3 separate regions of the Homo sapiens genome follow, and regions 2 and 3 are each linked to region 1. A link means that fine-mapping ties the variant in region 1 to the expression of a gene that starts in the linked region. Tissue or cell type: whole blood. Region 1 holds a variant in brackets; each other region holds the start of a gene. All regions are shown on one strand. Distances are from middle to middle.

What was found. PIP is the estimated chance that this variant, and not a neighbour inherited with it, causes the effect.
Region 2: it holds the start of CDK5RAP3, and the variant in region 1 is fine-mapped to the expression of CDK5RAP3 in whole blood (TOPMed, PIP above 0.99).
Region 3: PNPO starts here. The variant in region 1 is fine-mapped to the expression of PNPO in whole blood (TOPMed, PIP above 0.99).

The regions. Positions count from the first base shown.
Region 1 is chr17:48,016,497-48,019,252 of GRCh38, forward strand. No RefSeq gene overlaps it. Among named protein-coding and RNA genes, the nearest start is that of MIR10226, 15 kb to the right of the region's middle. RefSeq lists an enhancer at 1,208-1,307. The variant AAAGAGG/A (reference allele first, on the strand shown) is at 1,139.
Region 2 is chr17:47,969,841-47,972,340 of GRCh38, forward strand. CDK5RAP3 (CDK5 regulatory subunit associated protein 3) reads left to right here and starts at 1,273. Exons shown (of 14, transcript NM_176096.3): 1 at 1,273-1,312; 2 at 1,522-1,567. The coding sequence starts at 1,307. RefSeq lists a silencer at 924-1,213 and an enhancer at 1,635-2,262.
Region 3 is chr17:47,940,045-47,942,544 of GRCh38, forward strand. PNPO (pyridoxamine 5'-phosphate oxidase) reads left to right here and starts at 1,527. Exons shown (of 7, transcript NM_018129.4): 1 at 1,527-1,769. The coding sequence starts at 1,632. It overlaps SP2-AS1 (SP2 antisense RNA 1), which reads right to left and starts at 1,360. Exons shown (of 3, transcript NR_103857.1): 1 at 1,303-1,360. RefSeq lists an enhancer at 1,279-1,573.

The DNA.
Region 1 (2,756 bases):
ATAAATAGGAAGGGCAGGCCCACTGGGTCCAGGATAGTGCCCTACAAGGAGACCTTTCTTCAAAATGAAATCCATACCTGGGTTCAGGCCGCATTGCTTCTGCTCCCAGCACCCGAGAGCATCCTCAATCACCTCACAAGTGGGAATGACAACGCCTGCCTCCTTCACTGAGATAGAGGTACAAAAAAATTACATGTGTGAAAGAAATAGAATACTTTTACGGATCCTGACAAATGTGAGTTTACATAAATCCTATTAAAAGAACATTGTGCAAGAAGCTTTTCTGTGTCTTGTATATAAATTATCCTCAGAAAAGAAGTGCAGCTGATGGGACTCACTTATTAATTTCATTATTTAAAAAACAGACGTGCTGGGCGTGGTGGCTTATGTCGGTAATCCCAGCACTTTGGGAGGCCAAGGCGGGAGGATCACTTGAGGTCAGGAGTTTGAGACTAGCCTGGCCAATATGGTGAAACCCTGTCTCTACTAAAAATACAAAAATTAGCTGGGCATGGTGTTGTGTGCCTCTAGTCCCAGCTACTTGGGAGGTTGAAGCACGAGAATCACTTGAACCCAGGAGGCACATGCAGCAGTGAGTCAGGATGGCGCCACTTACTCCAGCCTGGGCGACAGAGCAAGATTCTGTCTCAATAAATAAATAAATAAATAAATAAATAAATAAATAAATAAATAAAATAAAAATTAGAAAACGCTATTGGAGCCAGCCATGGTGGCTCCCAGCACTTTGGGAGGCCGAGGTGGGCAGATTGCTTGAGCTCAGGAGTTCGAGACCAGCCTGGGCAACATGGTGAAACCCCGTCTCTACTAAAAATACAAAAATTAACCAGGCATGGTGGCAGGTGCCTGTAATCCCAGCTACTCAAGAGGCTGAGGCAGGAGAATTACTTGAACCTGGGAGGTGGAGGTTGCAGTGAGCAGAGACTGTGCCACTGTACACTAGCCTGGGTGATAGAGTGAGACTGTTAAAAAAAAAAAAAGCATGCAAAGAAAAATGTGCATTGGGGTTTTGAGTCAAGAGCCCTGCTATTTTTTCTTACTGCCCAGGAAGGCACTCCTTGTCAAGGGAATTCTATTTATAAACGTTATATTCTCATGATCTGCAGAAAACACAGGGCAG[AAAGAGG/A]AAGAGGTAAGAGGGTTCCAGGAAACCCTCTTTCTTGTCTCAGTTCTGTCCCTTGTTAGCTGTGTGACATTGGGTAAGTCAACCTTTGAGTTTCACTTTCCTAATCTGAAGGCCTCTAGCTTGCTCTCCCAGAAAGATCCACTTTTTTTTTTCTACCTTAGAGTATAAACTTCAGTCAGTGCCCAAGCCCCTCAGACCCCTTCCTCAACCTCCCAGCTACCTTGGGGAATGGGTCCAAATCTCCAGAGTTGGAGGAAAAGGTCTGTATTTGTTTTCTGTTTGTTTGTTTGAGACAGAGTCTCACTCCATCACCCAGGCTGTAGTGCAGTGGCGCAGTCTCGGCTCACTGCAACCTCCATCTCTTGGGTTCAAGCAATTCTCCTGCCTCACCCTCCCGAGTAGCTGGGATTACAGGCATGTGTCACCATGCCCAGCTAATTTTTGTATTTTTAGTAGAAACAGGGTTTCACCATGTTGGCCATGTTGGTCTCGAACTCCTGACCTAAAGTGATCTGCCCACCTCGGCCTCCCAAAGTGCTGGGATTACAGGAGCGAGACACCATGCCCAGCCAGGTCTGTATTTCTTGACAGTGTTTCTTGATCAGAGGCCCTGTTTTCTCAGGACAATTGCTGTCCCAGGTGCCCAGGGTCTCTCACCTTCGTGTTCCCATGGAGGTGCTCACAGCTCTGATGTGGGAACCCCCAAGGTTCTCCTCTGTGGTCTAGGGAGTATCTAGGAATGGACTGCAATGCTCAGCACTGTGAGATAACTCCTGCCCAATAGAGAGTAGAGATGCCCTCTAGGTCTGGTTCCTGCAAGCCTTTTCATAGTCCCGTCACTGATCCCGGCCAGGCTAAGGATGAAAGAGGGGCTTGTCTTACAGCACCATCTTCTGGGCAAACCTGTGAGAGCTACTTCTTCTTGCTGCCATCTGGAGAACACTGAGATTTTGGGGGACTTTGGGTCCCAGAAGTTTTGTTTGTTTGTTTGTTTGAGATGGAGTCTCGCTCTGTCACCCAGGGCTGGAGTGCAGTGGTGCGATCTTGGCTCACTGCAACTTCCATCTCCCGGGTTCAAGCGATTCTCCTGCCTCAGCCTCTGAGTAGCTGGGACCAGAGGCGCACGTCACTATGCCCAGCTAATTTTTGTATTTTTAGTAGAGACGGGGTTTCACCATGTTGGTCAGGCTTGTCTCAAACTTCTGACCTCGTGATCTGCCCACCTCGGCCTCCCAAAGTGCTGGGATTACAGGTGTGAGCCACCACGCCCGGCCGATTCCAGAAGTTTTTATCTTACCTGTTTCCCCAAGATAAATTAATTCTGGACTTTTCCAGCCATCTCTTAGGAGAGGATGTTCCAAGAGCCCTCCAACCTTCCAAACACAAGGCTGCTAGGAATGGTAAGCAGCTGAAACCAGTCTTCCAATCATTCCACCCAGAACCTGAGTCCTCACCTACTCACCCCATATATCCCCACCCCAGAACACCCTGTCACTCACTAAGAAGCTGTTGTCTGGAAGCAAGGTTATAGCCTCATCACTTCCAGAGTTTTCTTCTATCCTCAAGTTTATTTGTTTGTTTGTTTCAGATGAGGGCTCACTGGCAGCCATGA
Region 2 (2,500 bases), 47 kb before region 1:
TCAAAGCTAGACCCCCTCCTCCCCAACACCTGCTCAGCATCCTGCATCCCTGTCTCAGGTGGTGGTTCCCACCTAATCACCTAGGTGTCATCCTTAGTGTCTCTCTCCTCCACCCAAACAGCCAATCAATTGCCAAGTCCTATACATTTTCCTCCTAAATATTCCTCAGATCCAGCCCTTCCCCTTCCTCCTCATATCTTGTGTCCCAGCTCAGGCTATAATCCCTCGATAACAACCTCCTTCCAGCCTCCTTGTCCCCAGTCTTATCTCCCATGCATCCATCATCCCAGCAGCCTATCTGTACAGGTTCCTCCCTGCCTCAAACCCCTTCTGTGATTCCTCTGTCTGAAGGGATGAAGTCCAAGTTCCTTAATAAGTCTCCCTTTGATATGGCCTTTCCACCCTTACAGCCTCTCCTCTAGCCACTCGCTGCCTCAAACCATCTACGGTATAGAGGTTGGCCTGCCCGCGGAGCCGACTTCATCTTGAAATTCTTCATCATTTTGTAACAAGCAGCTGTGCATTTCCATTTTGCACTGGACCTCACAAATTACGTTGCCCGTCCTGCCTGCCTGTTGTTGCTTGCACCCCTCTTGCAGTTTGTGGCCACCTAAGCTTTGTCTGTGTAGTCTCCTCCACCTAAAACTCCTCTTCCCACATCACCCAGCTATCTTCAGCTCTTCGTTTAGACTCAATGTAGGTGTTCTCTTTGGGACGTCTCACCGACTCTCTTCCTTCCCCTTCCCTGCCCTAATCGCCCAACACGTTGCAGGTGCTCAACCATGTCTATTAGAGAAACTGAATGAGGAGGCAAAGCATGACAAGTGCCACAAGAGACCTGCACACTGCTCTGGATGGTAAAGCGACGCAAGGAGGGAAGAAGGTATTTGCAACGGCCTCCCAGATCGGCGCTAGGACCCCGCCAGCAGACGTCTCAATCTGCGTGGAGAAGACCCAGTGCCCGCCAGGGGAAGCGGCTGCCAGGCTGGGCTCTCGAGCGCCGCCTGTCGCAATCCCACGGCCGCTGCAGCGCACCCCCTCCCGTCCCCTGCCCTGAGCCCGCCTCGCGTCTCCAATTGGCTGTCTCCATTCTCCCGCCCCTCCCGAGCTCAGCCATTCGGAGCCTGGGGTGGGCGGGGCTTGAGGCCTGAGTGGAGCGTAAACCCTGATTGGCTGTACGGAAGGCGGCGACGTGGCCGAAGGATGCCCGTTTGTGTCTAAACGGAGGCTCGGCCACAACGCCACTGGATTGGTGGTAGGGCGGGGCGGGCCACAGTCTCCAGCCTGAAGCGGAAGTGGAGGAAAGATGGAGGTGTGGGGACAGGAGCTGGGTGTGCTGGGGACTGGCCGCGGACCCCTAACCTGTGTCTCCGGTCTCCCTCCGGAAGCGGCTCAACCCAGCCCATCGCTCTGGCCCCGTTCTGGCCCTGCAGGGTGGTGGTTGGGACGTTGAAATGAGCGCGCGAGTGGTACGTCCTCTCTCCGCGCTCACGCCCCCCTCCTCACCGTGTTTCCCGCCAGGACCATCAGCACGTGCCCATCGACATCCAGACCAGCAAGCTGCTCGGTAGGAGGGGGCGCCACCGCGCAGCTGGCTGTCGGGGGGAGGCCTGTGCGTTGCCCCCTGTGTCCAATAGCCGGGAGCTCTGACCCCTGAAAGCCTGAGTCGAGATGCTGACCACTGGCCTCGTTCTATGCCCCATCTGTGGCCAGACCTGCTTCCCTGATAGCAGCGGGAACGAACCATATGTACAGTCTGTTTGACCTGCGTTTTCTCCTTTAATAACATATGTTATCGTATCATTCAGGGACAGGATAAATGACTCGCTTTAAAAACAGTCAACCACTGCCGGGCGCGGTGGCTCATGCCTGTAATCCCAGCACTTTGGGAGGCCGAGGTGGGCGAATCACCTGAGGTCAGGAGTTCGAGACCAGCCTGACCAACATGGAGAAACCTTGTCTCCATGTCTCCATGACTAAAAATACAAAAAAATAAAAATAAAAAGTAGCCGGGCATGGGAGCACATGCCTGTAATCCCAGCTACTCGGGAGGCTGAGGTGGGAGAATTGCTTGAACCCCGGAGGCAGAGGTTGCGGTGAGCAGAGATCTCACTATTGCACTCCAGCCTGGGCAACGAGAGCGAAACTCCATCTCAAAAAGAAGACAAAAAACAGTCAACCACTAAGTGGCACATCTGAATTGGAACTTAAGTCTGTCTGACCCACTGTCCATGCCTTTTGCATTATGCCAGGAAAAAAAAAAAAAACCTCATTTAAAAAGCTTCCACCTCCCCCTTGATTTTAGGAGGAAGAGGGACCTAAGACCCAGTTGCAAATGAAAACCTTTTAGTGTCCAGGCCATCTCCAGGTTGTCTGTATGGGGCTTACATACTTCCTCCCCAGTTCATAGTCAGGGAAGGCCTCTTCATCTGATCACACAGCTCCTGGCATTTTAAAATGCTTATTGGATTCATGGATTTGATGCCAATCTTGTCCTTAA
Region 3 (2,500 bases), 77 kb before region 1:
GCTATGTACACATAAAGGATGACAGGTATCTAATGTAGGGCTTCATGAAGCTCAGCTGTAATGCAGACACCTGGCCAGGCCAGGAAGTTCCCCTTACCTGGCACAGTCCTGGGTGCCTGCCTAGATGGCTCTTGCAGTTCCCCTTCCTGATGCTGGTGGAAAGCAGGGCTACAGAGAGGTCTCGACCCAAGGCCGCCCCAGCCAGCTCAGAATTGGACTGGGCATGAGTGGGTTTCCCATTTTTCAGCCTTGCATCCACAGCCTGGAAAGGCTATGCACAGCCACCTGCTCAGTGTACTCTCAGTTGGCAATTGCTTGCATTGACCTAGGGGCTAGACTCCTACTACCTAGCATGGGCAAAATGTGGAAAAAGGGAAGCTTGACAAAGATTGGGGAGACCCTGGAGAAATGGGACATTGGCAGCCTTGCTATCTACCAGGACACTGGCTCCTATGAACTCCAGTGCACCATGGCAGGGGAAACCATGAGCAAAGGGAGTAAAATGCTCTGACCCTTGCTTAAATAAATGAGGCTGGAGGGAAGGGGTTTAAAACTAGAAGAGGTGGCGGGCGCGGTGGCTCACGCCTATAATCCCGGCACTTTGGGAGGCCAAGGCGGGTAGATCACTTGAGATCAGGAGTTTGAGACTAGCCTGGCCAACATGGTGAAACACCGTCTCTACTAAAAATACAAAACTTAGCCGGGCGTGGTGGCGGGCGCCTGTAATCCCAGCTACCCGGGAGGCTGAGGCAGAGAATTGCTTGAACCCGGGAGGTGGAGGTTGCAGTGAGCCGAGATCGCGCCACTGCACTCCAACCTGAGCGACAGAGCTAGTCTCCGTCTCAAACAAAACAAAACAAAACCAAAACTAGAAGAGGAAAACCACTCTGGTCTGGGATACCTTGGTCCCAAATTTCCTTCTTCCCCCTTCCCATTCAGCCATCTTCCTTCTCACCTCACCGTCTCTTCCTCACCCCACTGCACCTCCCCACTCGGGGCATGGTCCACAAGTCATTTCAACCTCTCCCACTCTCATGCCCTAATTTCTCCCCACAACCAGATTACCCTTTTCTCTATGTGTCCCCATCACCTTGCCTCAGAGTCTGGCCCCTAATTCCATTTTCCATTTTTCTTTTCCCATTCCACTAGTCTCCCTTCCCAGGGGGTACTTCCTGCCCTAAGCTCACCTACAGGCACCTACTATGGGCCAGCCACTTAATACTGACTACTCCCCTCAAGCCCCCGGGACACATCCTCCGCCCCGCCTGAGCTGCAAGAGATCCTCCTATACCTTTAACCAACCTCCACGTGCGTGTTAACCGCGGTGACAGCATTTCCTTGTCTCTCTGCTCCCGCCCCCAAAGGCGCTACCCATTGGCCGCTGGGTTCCTCTGTTCTCGCTCTAATTGGCCTCGTTACCGAAAAGCTCCAACCAATGACCTCTCCGTGTCTGTCTCCCTCCTCCGATCCTGGAAACTCATTGGCTCCGAGGACTTAGGACCTGTTAGCTTGGTTGGGCGACTGGCAAATCCTTCCTTCCCCGGGGTAGAAGTCCAGGGTGAGAAATTGGTTCCGAACTCAAAGGAACCCAGTGCCGGGCCACAGCCGGGTCACGTGGCCGGCGGCCCCCCATGACGTGCTGGCTGCGGGGCGTCACGGCGACGTTCGGGCGACCTGCCGAGTGGCCAGGCTACCTCAGTCACCTGTGTGGTCGCAGTGCTGCCATGGACCTGGGACCCATGCGCAAGAGTTACCGCGGGGACCGAGAGGTGCCGCCGCTAGGGCCAGGCCTCCTGCAGGGGCGGGGGAAAAGGGGTCCCCGGAGTCATCTACAGCGGGGAGGGGAGTAGTAGGAGCCCCTCGGGGCTTCTGGGGCCACCCGGTGGGGCAAGGAGGTTTGAGGATCACCCCCCGTGGGAAAAGGGGGCTTCAAAGACATCCCACCAGGGGAGGAGTTCCGGGGAAACGCAAATGAAGATGGGTTCAAAAGGCAGCCTTTCGTAATGGGTAAGAGCTCGAACTTTGGAGCCTGCCTGGGTTGGAATGTTTAATGTATCTGGGCCTCAGTTTCCTCATCTGGGAAGTGATAGTATCTGCCTCACGGGGATGTTATGGTCTAAGATGTTTGTAAAGTGCTTAGAACCCTGCTACTCGACAGGTAGCAAGGTCAAATAACTTGCTCAGTCCCACAGCTAGTGATGAATGAATCGGGGTTTCATGTGATGGATGTCAGGACTGTGCTGGGCCTCCCTCAAGGGCGGGGGAAGAGGGGTCCTCGGAGTCATCTACTGGGGGGAGGGGAGTAGGAGGAAACAGCCCCTCAGGGCTTCTGGGGCCACCCCCTGGGGCAAGGAGATTTGGGGGTCACCCAAACCTCCTTGTGCCAGGTGGGCATGGTCATGGGCCCCTCTTTAGGTGGGTACAGTGACAAACAGCTTACAAACTGTTTGACAAAAAAGTAAGTGGAATATGGGGGAAGGGGACTAGCTCGGGGAGGAGG